2 separate regions of the Homo sapiens genome follow, and region 1 is linked to region 2. Evidence: fine-mapped expression QTL. Tissue or cell type: lymphoblastoid cells. Region 2 holds a variant in brackets; the other region holds the start of a gene. All regions are shown on one strand. Distances are from middle to middle. Region 1 holds the start of TSEN15 (tRNA splicing endonuclease subunit 15). Region 2 overlaps COLGALT2 (collagen beta(1-O)galactosyltransferase 2).

Evidence for each region. PIP is the estimated chance that this variant, and not a neighbour inherited with it, causes the effect.
Region 1: it holds the start of TSEN15, and the variant in region 2 is fine-mapped to the expression of TSEN15 in lymphoblastoid cells (TwinsUK, PIP 0.95).

Annotation. Positions count from the first base shown.
Region 1 is chr1:184,048,770-184,054,150 of GRCh38, reverse strand. It overlaps TSEN15 (tRNA splicing endonuclease subunit 15), which reads right to left and starts at 2,421. Exons shown (of 5, transcript NM_052965.4): 1 at 2,261-2,421. The coding sequence starts at 2,395. RefSeq lists enhancers at 2,342-2,636, 2,515-2,644, 2,705-2,814, 2,567-3,502.
Region 2 is chr1:184,020,987-184,026,367 of GRCh38, reverse strand. All of the region lies in intron 1 of COLGALT2 (collagen beta(1-O)galactosyltransferase 2), which reads left to right. Among named protein-coding and RNA genes, the nearest start is that of COLGALT2, 14 kb to the left of the region's middle. RefSeq lists an enhancer at 768-1,507. The variant CA/A (reference allele first, on the strand shown) is at 2,724.

The sequences.
Region 1 (5,381 bases), 28 kb before region 2:
TAACAATATATGACTGTAAGTGATTAAAAACCATGTAAATGGAATAAAAAACATGACACAGCAGGTCAGAAGAGCTCTACTCAGAGGGACTGGTGAAAGATTTATAGCAGAGGTGGGATGGGATACAAGTTGAGCACTGAAGAACATTATGATTTAAGTAAGTGGAGAAGTAGAGTAATACTGCAGGTAATTACACAAAGGTGGGATTAAGCCACATACATTCAAGGGCCTGTAAAGAAACCTATCTGCCAGCAATAGAGAAACCTTTTTAATAAAACTTGTGATGGGACATGTTAGTGGGTACTGTGTATTTCCCTAGCCTCTTATTTGTATATGGAGAGAATCTGCTAGAGTATCAGTCCTAGCCTCTCTACCCACTCTTTCTCACTTTAAGAGTAGATTTTTTAAAAGGAATTGACAAGGAACTAGAGAAAGCTGCTTCTTTCAGACTACTGGTCAGCATAAGGGGAATACTTTTCAGGGGCCTACACCTGCAGGAGAATTCTGAGGCTGCCCAGCTATGCCAGCGACTAGGTGGATATGCAGGGCTAATGCTGAGTTGAATTATTAGCAGACCTGCATGGGGACAGGTCTAAAGTCACATTCTCCCATCAGCTTCACTGTAACTGTACAGGTTCAGGAGGACAGGGGTTAATTAGTTGTCGACTTCAAACATGTTTTGAAAATAACACCCAAAACATAATTTTGAGCCAGGTTACAAGGCTTTGGTGGTCAAGCTAAACATGTGATTTTATCAGTATGGAAACACTGAGGATTTCTAAGCAGGAGAATAATAAAATAAAAGTGTGTTTGGGGATAATAAATCTGGTACCATTTTACTGGATGAAACTACATAATTTTTAAATTAACAGAAAGGTGAAATTGGAAAAACAAATACCCCCTATTATTTTATTACTTGTTCTTTTTCTTTTAAAAATTAATTTGATCCTTCAAGAAGAGAAATCAAAAGGGGAGATTTGATGGTCAAGGTGTATACAGCCATTAACTTGAAAAAGAAAACAATCTACAAGTATATAAACTGAATAACACCACCAAATCTAGATAAAGTCTTAAAAAGTTGTTACTGGTGTTTCGCTTATTAAGTACTTATATAGTGCTTTCTGTATGTTGAATGGCTTACAAATATTCATTAATTTAATCCTGTAACAACCGTATAAGTAAGTATGGACTATTAATATCCCCATTTTTCAGGTGAGGAAACTAAGGCATAATAAGATCAAGCAACTTGTCCCAAATCACAAGGTTGATAAGTGACAGAATCAGGATTTAAACTGAGTCTGATTTTGAGTTCATGCGCCTAACCAATATGCTGCCTCTCCATGCTATTGTTTCCCTAAAAGGGCACTAAATAATATTTCCATGCTATTGTTTCTTTTTCTCACCTTTTGGGAGGATGAAGGGGACAGAGTAGGAAGATAAAATTAAGCAAGAGAAGCTGAAAAAGGTTAACTCTTCAAACTTATACCTTCAAATTTTTTCTTGGCTGTTTTTAGATGATTATGAATTATTGCTCTCTAGCAGAAGAGTGCAATTCTGTTAAAGTACCGTAGAGACTAGTTTTTGAGATTCTTACAAAACCCACATCTCCATTCACTGTCTATTCACTGCTTGGAACCGTACTTGTACAAGGCAGTAATGTCTCAAGCAGAAGTAAGCAGAGGACTATCTTGATCTCGCCTGCTGCTAATCTAGAAAAATACACGCAAAATGTGAGTAGCTCTGCTTTGAGCAAGAACCTATTCAAACTTTCGAAGAAATCTGAAATATTAGGAATCTGCACCTTTTCAAAATAAAGATGCATTCTGGGCCCAAGGCTAAGTGTAAACGTGACTGTGCTTAAATCTTTATCACTATGGACCCCTAGATCTTATCCATCGCCCACAAATTGTCTTGCATGGTTACCGTGAGGATTAAATAAATTTATCCCCCAAAGGGGATTTACCTAGACAGCAAAACTAGTGGAGCGCTTATTAGGGATCTCCGGCTTGAGAGGGGCGGAGTTACTGTCTGGCTCTCAGTTCCAAAATGGCTTTGGCTGGGGGATTGAGATAGTGCAACTTGTTTAAACAAACAAAACCGATGCTGCCTGAGGCTGGCAGTTGTGCACACCGGTCCCCCTCGGTGAGGGTGGCGCGCGTCCTCAGTCTCCCACTGAGGAAGAAAGAAAGAGAGCTGCCTGGGAGTGTTCTGCCTGGGTTAGGGGCCTGGACGGCGCCCTGCTCCTCTCGCGCCTCCTGACCTTAGGGTGAGTGCCCATCCAGGCGTCCTCAGGGGCCCACGAAGGAGCTCCACCGCCGTCGCCAAAGCCGCGAACACCGCCCGGACCCAGGCCGCTGCAGCCGGGGGTCGGCTCGGAATCGCCGCGCTCCTCCATGCCGGCCGGTGCGGCGCTCCCGTGGTGCACCACGACCCGCGCCCGGCCAGAAGCAGCGGCGCGCGCGCCTGTGGGTTCCGCTTCCCCGAGGCTCGCAGCTGCAGTGCGAGAGGGCTCAGAAACTGGGAGGAAAGTTGCATCAGCCCCTCCTTCTGACCAAGGTAGCTAGAACCTGCGCGAACGCTCTCTAGTTTCGCTCTGCGTTTATTCAAATCTGAGCAAATTCTAACGTGAAAAATATTAAAGAGTAGCCTGCGCCCTGAAGCTCTTAATCCTCTTTAAGTCAGTGCTGCCGATAACTCTCTGAGAAAGTTGGGGGATACATACGTCCTCTTTGCCTTCAGCAGTGGGGTCCTGGTTTCTGATTGCTGGGGACGGGAAAGGCCTTACTCAGTGCCCTGACATAGAACTTTAAAGTAGAACCATACTTTCAGGGTGGACCCACGTTTCAGGATTAGAGGAAACACGAGTTGCTGAACGAGTGTTCAGAAAGGTAGGATACAAACTAGCATAAGCATGTGATCTGGAAGCCAAGGATGAGGAGTTTCAAACAGGCAGAGTAGCACATTTTAAGTATTTTTTAATTTACTGTGAGTGAAATGGGAAGCTATTGGAGGCTCCTGGACGTTTTCATAGGATCACTCTGACTGATATGTTGAGGATAGACTGGAGGGAGCAAGGACACAAACAGAGACTGGTTAGGAGGCTATCGCATTGACCAGGACAAGGGTGACTCAAAATCCAAAGTCCCAGGCAGGACATAACTTCTGTTTTCAACCATGATAGACTAAGACCCTAGTGGACCATCCCCCAGCAGAAAACAATTTGGACACAATGCAAAAAGCTGAATATACTGGAATGTGAATAGTGGACTGGTAGGAAGGGCAAGCTTGCTTGAAGATCAGGAACTACACTTGGACACAATACAAAAAGCTGAATATACTGGAATGTGAACAGCAGACTGGTAGGAAGGGCAAGCTTGCTTGAAGATCAAGAACTCCACAAGAAAATTCTCCTCTCTTTGGCATTTAGCTTGGGGCAAAGTGCAGTCCAGAAGTCAGGCTCAGCAGTACCAGGGATGCATGTATAAAACTTATCAGTTATTCTTGTCTGGGGAAGCAGAAAAGTGAAGACAGAAAATTTTGAATTCTGAAGAGATTAAGAAATCCCAAGGAAGGAGTCAGAGAGTGGATCCCCAAACTGTCAACCCACATCTCTGAGAGATCCTGAACCACCCAAAACAGAATCACAGCAGCTCAGTTAAAAACAAAAGATCTGAACTGAGACCAGAGCTGTCTCCAAAAGGGAGAGAGTTTTCAGTTAAAATCTAGCCGGGAAAATTACCTACTAATACAAAGGAAATAACACTCATCAGAGAAGAATAATAGAATCCAGACTCTCCACTTAACACTCACAAAGTCCAGAGTACTATCCAAAACTATCTGACATATGAAATTCAAGGAAATGGATCGCATACTCTAGAGATCAACCCTGAGATGAATCAGATATTGAAACTGACAGATAAGGATTTTAAAGTGACTATTATAACTATCCTCAATGAAGTAAAACATGTTTTCAATGAATGAAAATCTCAGGAGACAAATAGAAAATCTCAGCAAAGAAAAAGAAAAAAAAAGATTTTTAAAACCAAATGGAAATTCTGAAAATTGAAAATTATAATTTTAGAAATAAAAAATTCACTGGGTGAATTTAACAGCCAAAAAAAATTACAAAAGAAAAAGTAGGGAACTTGAAGATAGAGCAATAGAAATTATTAAAAGTAAACAACAAAGAGAAAAATTATCTTTAAAAAGTGAGTAGACCAACAGAGATTTGCTACATGTCAGACAATCCAACATGCATGTAAACAACAGAAGTAGAAAAAAAAAGGGACAGAAAAAATTTTTGAAGAAAGAGTGGTGGCCAGAATTTCCCCAAATTTGATGAAAAACACATTTACTAGTACAAAATGCTAAATACATAGCAACTAAAATAAACACAAAGAAGTCTACATTGTAATAAAACTATTGAAAGTCAAAAAAATAAAGAGAAAAGCTTGAATGCATCAAAAGAAATAACACATCATACACAGGGAAAAGAAGGGCATCTATTATTGAATGAAATGTAAAGCCACACATGAAGATTCATATGTTGCCCTCAAATACATTACATTTGAATGAACCTTTGCCACCACAAAGCAGCTGCTAAGCCCGAAAGAAGAAAATGGCACTGAAATTAATTGGGTCATTGAAGCATGAAACACTGACACGAATTCAAGTGATTGGAAGTGAATAAATCTCTCTGACTCCTAAAGATCCAAATCAGTTCATATGATGGCATTTTTAAAAGCATTAAGAGTATTTTGATGCTAATCTGAGTAGAGGGAAACTTTTATAAATCAGTAAGGATATCCAATGGGATTAGGGACTATATGAACCAGCCTCAAACATCTGCAGGGGAAGAATTTCAGCTTATGTTCAAGAAAAAATAATTGGGGGTATGGAAAGAACCATAAACCAAAAAAGCAACAGATAAATGCCATCCTTTGGCAAATAGATTAAATACTGTTGCTTAGAAAAAGCATGATACATTCAAGAATGAGTATTACGTGCTTTTCAAAAGAGTTGAAGAATGAAAAGGGAGTGTCTGTTAGCTTCCCTGTTAATGTAAATTTTTAAATAGGTCTTGGTGATTGTGAATGGCTAAGAATGAACACAAAGGATTTGGGAACACTTAGACAACCCAGTATTTAAAGTACAGAATCAAAATACCTATTGTGACAATCTAGAGTGAAATCCACTAGAGAACAGAGGAGAGTTTCAGTGTCTGGTATCCTGGAGGATTTCTCATTTTGTAAATGCTTCAATAGTTCACTCTATTAGAGAACCAAAGTAGTGAGAAAAAAAAGCTAGATAAGAAACAACGAATGAAATCCCCCCTGAGTATATTGGATTTAATCAAATTCATTGTAATCTGGCACTTGCTG
Region 2 (5,381 bases):
TACAATAAAGTTCTTAAGTTTATGCATCCACTTTATTTTTGTATCTTTTATCCTTCTCAAAAATGTGAACTGCATACCACAGCTTAGCACATCCCACCAAGAAAATAACAATCACCTGGAGATGAAGTGAGGCTGGTGGCAGTGGGGTCTCCAGGACAGTTTCCTCTAGCCAAAAGCAGCGTCTTTCATTTTTCCCTAGTGTGCAAATACGCTATCTGTGTTGTCCTGTGAAAGGTCTTGGAAGCATTGCTCATGCTAGGCTGCTTTGAGCAAGTCACTTAGTTTCTCCTGTAACATAAGGGAAATGTGCTAAAATTGTGCTTTTCAAATGCAGCCACTTATTGGAATCATTTGATGATCCAGGGCAATTGACGTATTTTGAAAACTTCCCAAAGGGTGGTAATATGCAGTCTTGCTTAAAAATCTCTAGATGAGATGTTCTCTGAGTCCTTTCCTGACCTAACACTTTCCTCTTCATGGGGATAACCATATCTGAAGAATGTTCACATAACTGCATAATCGATGCTTCCTGGACCCTCAGCCCAACTTTAGATCTCTGGGGGATGGCTTTAAAAAATCCTTTTCTAGGAAGCTCGTGGTATTTTATCCTGTTTTATACTGTGCGAAAGGTGTTTGCTAAGAGTGTTGTCTCCTTGGGAAGGCACGTGCTTGATGATGACTGAACTCCCAAGGAAAGTGGCAACATGAGAGCTAGCCTTGCAATGGCATATATTAGACCTTCTTATGAAGGAGCTGTGTGCACCAGGTAGAGAAGCAGCAGCTGCCCAGGAGGTCCTTCCTTTGGCACACAGATGGTTGCCTCTTGACTAAGGGAGCTGCATATATCAAGACTTCTGAGCACATCTAGCCAGGCTCTGGCCAGCTCAGGATTCCTTCCTACAGTATGTGTTTTGGTGTGTTGCCCAGCTTTGCTTTTAGGTTTCCTATTTCATACTGGTCTAGGGCCTCTAATCCTCTCTGGGTATTGAATTTCTGATGTTACTTCTGATGGCTTTGGAGATTAGCTTCTTTTGTTTCCAGATTTGCATAAACAGTGCTGCCTTTGTCCCCTGGTCTTGACCCAGCTTCAAAGCTTTGACGGGCATCAAAGACACACTGGATCCTCATTTCTTAGGCATCAGATGGCAGCAATGCCAGCAGGTGACTGAAGGTTATAGCCCCACTTTTGGGCCAGTTTTCTGTCTCTCAGTCAGAAAAGATTAGGTTACATTCTGCCAAGTCCTCTGACAATGGTTCTGAATCTTAACAGCTTTCATAACGCCTGTGCGAATACCATTGAACTAAAGGGGAACTGCTGGTGTTTGTCTAAAGTGGAAAGGGCAGTAACTCCCTAATATTTGCTGAACTCTCCTTGCCCTATGAGAGGCAGATTATTAAGTGTCCCTCTGGAAAGCATGGAACCTCCAAGCCCATTGGCCAGACTTTGCTACTGATAATCTTCTTGTGAGGCCCAAGACCTCATTTTCCCATGCATCTTATCAAAATAACAGCAGTAGTAGAACTATCAGTTGTCTATGCATGGATTGTCAGTATGTTGGATATGTAGAAGCCAGTTTTGATAACAGGTCAGCTTGGTCCAATCATCCAACAAACCCTTGAGCTGTATCTCTGTCTCTGTGTTGCCTGATACTTGTATGTTTAGAGAACGGAGCCTAATTTTTATCTCTGCTCAGAAAAAAAAAAAAAAAAAAGCTGAGGCTGGGTGTGGTGGCTCACGCCTGTAAACCCAGAACTTTGGGAGGCCAAGGCAGGCAGAACACCAAGGTCAAGAGTTTGAGACCAATCTGACCAACATGGTGAAACCCCATCTCTACTAAAATACAAAAATTAGCCGGGTGTGGTGATGGGCACCTGTAATCTCAGCTACTCGGGAGGCTGAGGCAGGAGAATCACTTGAACCCAGGAGATGAAGGTTGCAGTGAGCCGAGATCATGCCACTGCACTCCAGCCTGGGCGACAGAGTAACACTCTGTCAAAAAAAAAAAAGAAAAAGAAAAAGAAAAAAGCTGAAAGGTATTCAGCAACATTCCATACAGAGCATTCCAGTACCAGTAATATCTGATTTCTTAACTGCTCTTTTGCATTGTCTATGTCATGTACCACTGTATTTTCAAATTTTCTTGAATTCTTTGCCTTGCCTTGCCCTCCTACCTGTACAATGAGGGTTGCATAGGCTAATCTTTCAAGACTTTTCTAGCCACCACATGCTATGTATTTGAAGTTCCACCACTAATGCCATGAAAAATGAAACAACTCACGCTATTGCCACATTATTTAAGATGGCATTTTGAGCTTTTTTCCTTTATTTTTACTTAGATTTGACTTCTTCTGTAGTTTTGACTTATCCATGTCTCAAATCCTTGGTGATTAGACTGATGATTCATATCTATATAAAAATTGTAAAAACTTATTTGCCCTCTAACCTGAGTGAAAATGCTATCTTTTTTCATGAACAACAGAAGCAAAAAAAGGCTGTGATGAGAAGAAAAAAAGCCCAGAGAATTATGTCAGAACTATGTCAGAGGAGATAGTTCCAGGTCTGAAAACTAGGAAATCTATTGCTGTTGACTCCACTAGGAGTGGAATATTTGCAGCATAAGTGTACGTGTTGCAGGTATTTGGTTAGATTTAATTTTATCATATATGCAAAATAAGTAAGTGCAAGTCTTCCCTAGAATGCTTCCGGCACCGCCCCCCCCCCC[CA/A]CCTCACGCACTTTTGGAAAAAGCAAAAACAGCAGTTTGACATTTGCCATTGTGATGGGAAACGATATGTGTGTTTGTTATTTGCAAAAGTTACTGGTGTTTTTTGCTCAGTCTGCTGTGTAAGGAAAGCAGCCTGCATTTGCACTTTGGAGGTTAGAAGAACCTGCCAGTTGGAATTCAAGTCTCACCAAGCTAGTGGATTATCACACTGAAGTGATAGCTCCTCCTATGGAAAGGCTTTACTTCACAGTAGTGTCATTATATAGAAATACTAAACATTGGCAATGCCTTCAGAGGCCAAAAGCATGAGTGCCATGAAAGGTCCTTGTAACATGAAGCTGGTTGGGGCTACCTCCCTCCTTGCTGACACTTTAGGAGCAAAACAAAAGTCAAAGGAAGTAGAGATATGGGAGACTGAAAATCACTTGTCTCCTGAGTTTGAGTTTATATGCTACAGAAAAGTCAAAATCAAGAAGGCAAAAACTTTCTTTTTCAAGGAGTCTTCCCCTTAGTAACTCTTTGACTTACACTAGGGGTTTAGTTTCTAAAATCAAACGCTTCCCTTTCCAAGCTATAACTAATAAATAAAAAAGCACATCCTTCTGCTAGATCAGAATTATCTCGAGAAAATACTGCTCTTTGGCTGACTCCCTCATCCCTCTCCAGTCTTGGCTATTCAGCTGATACTCTCCAGCTGTAGGCCAGCTGCCTTGTTTCCCTGAAATGTGGTGCCAGCTGTTTTGAGTTTCTTAAGGAAGGTTTCTCTTGGGTGCATTGGTAACACTAGGGCTCAAGCATGAAAGCATAAAATGCCCTAATGAGTTTTCACTTTGATATCATAGTCAATGTGATTTAATGGACTGAGGGTGAAACGATTTCTGCCCTGAGGCAAAACAGATTTTGAAGCTTTTCTCTCTCTTCTTTGTAATAGAGTATCTGAGATTTAGTGTTGCTTCCCCTAAGCTATATATCAGTTGTCAAGTATTAGATAACAAATTGCCTTTGTGTTCTATAGCTTTGAGCCAGAAAGCAACAGTTTCCCTTATTATTTTGATGTCAAAGGAGCAGAAGAACCATACTCTGTGTTTTACCTTCTGAAATAATTTCTCCTGAATTGATTTTTTGGAGTGAATTTAGAGTTCTCATTTTTATTTAAATTTCACTCCTACTTGTACTAACATCGTTTGTTTGGCTCCATTTTCTCCCTTCTAATTATTTTCTTTCTGTGTTTCCAAACAGGCATTTTTCTAGGTAAATCTTAAGGCTTCTCACATTGGGGATCAAGTTTCCAACACATGAACTTTGGAGGACACATTCAAGCCAGAGGAGTCACTAAAAAGAAATTAATACTTTCTTCAGGCTCCTTAGTTAATTTATTGATGGATTGATCTATTTATTTATTCACGTAATTAGTTTTAGTCATTGTAGTAGAAATTCAACTGTCTTATCTGAAATAATTGGGAGAAGGTGTTCTTCCTTTCACCTTGTACAGAATGATTATGACTTAAAAAATCCAGACAGATAACTCTTGTCTTCAGCAACTTTACAAATATATTTGCCTTCCTTAGTTTTTGAGCCCTAAGACGATAAGGGTTACACATGGCTACAGCCTGCCCCAAGTTTACTCTGGCTGCCAGAATAATACAGTATCCTTTCCAGACCCCTGAACAATCAACTGTTAACAAGTGAGATCATTTTTGGTAGAAGAATTGCATATGTCATTGTCTCAAAAGAGACATGGGCTGCAAATCCTGTCTGGGGACTTGCTTCCAAATACTTGTTCAAACTCCTCCCAGCTTTGTCTGCACTTGGCATTAATCCCACTTTGACATTCAAAGAGCTTGAGTGCTGCACATTCTCAACTAAATAGATAGTAAAACAAAACCAGTAACTTGTTATTAAATACATAGTGAAGGGGGCAGTAGTCATTTTATTATTCTTTTCATTTATTCTGTCACTGTCTTAGTCTGTTTTGTGCTGCTATAATAGAATACCACAGACTGGGTAATAATTTATAATGAACAGAATTCACTGGCTCATGGTTCTGGAGGCTGGGAGTCCAAAATTGAGGGGCTGGCATCTGGCGACGGCCTTTTTGCTACATCATTCTATGGTGGTAGGGCAAGAAAGGGTGAGAGAGAACAAGAGAGGCCAAACTTGTCCTTTTATAAGGAACTCGCTCTCATGATAACAAACCCCCTCATTCAATAACAATAGTAGTCCACTCATGAGGGCAGAGCTCAAGTCCCACTTACCTCTTGAATGTCCCACCTCCCAACGTTACCACATTGGGGATCAAGTTTCCAACACATGAACTTTGGGGGACACATTCAAACCATATAAGTCACTAAAAAGAAATTCATACTTTCTTCAAATGTCTTAGAAAAGTAGAAAGCTTTAATGAGTTTTTTCAAGTCCTTTAAATGTTGAAGTAGTGTATAAAAATACAAGGTTTTGGAACCTCAAAGGCTTGCTTTTTAAAAACAGTGAACTGTAACAGCACCAACCTCTCCCGATGGACCCAGTGATCCTTGCCTCCTGGTATTCACTCCTATAGTCTCGTGCCATGCTGAATCATGTGACTTGACAGGATAGGCAGAAGTGAGATCCTGTGACTTCTCAGGCCAGATTATAAACGGCACTTCAGTTTCTGCTAT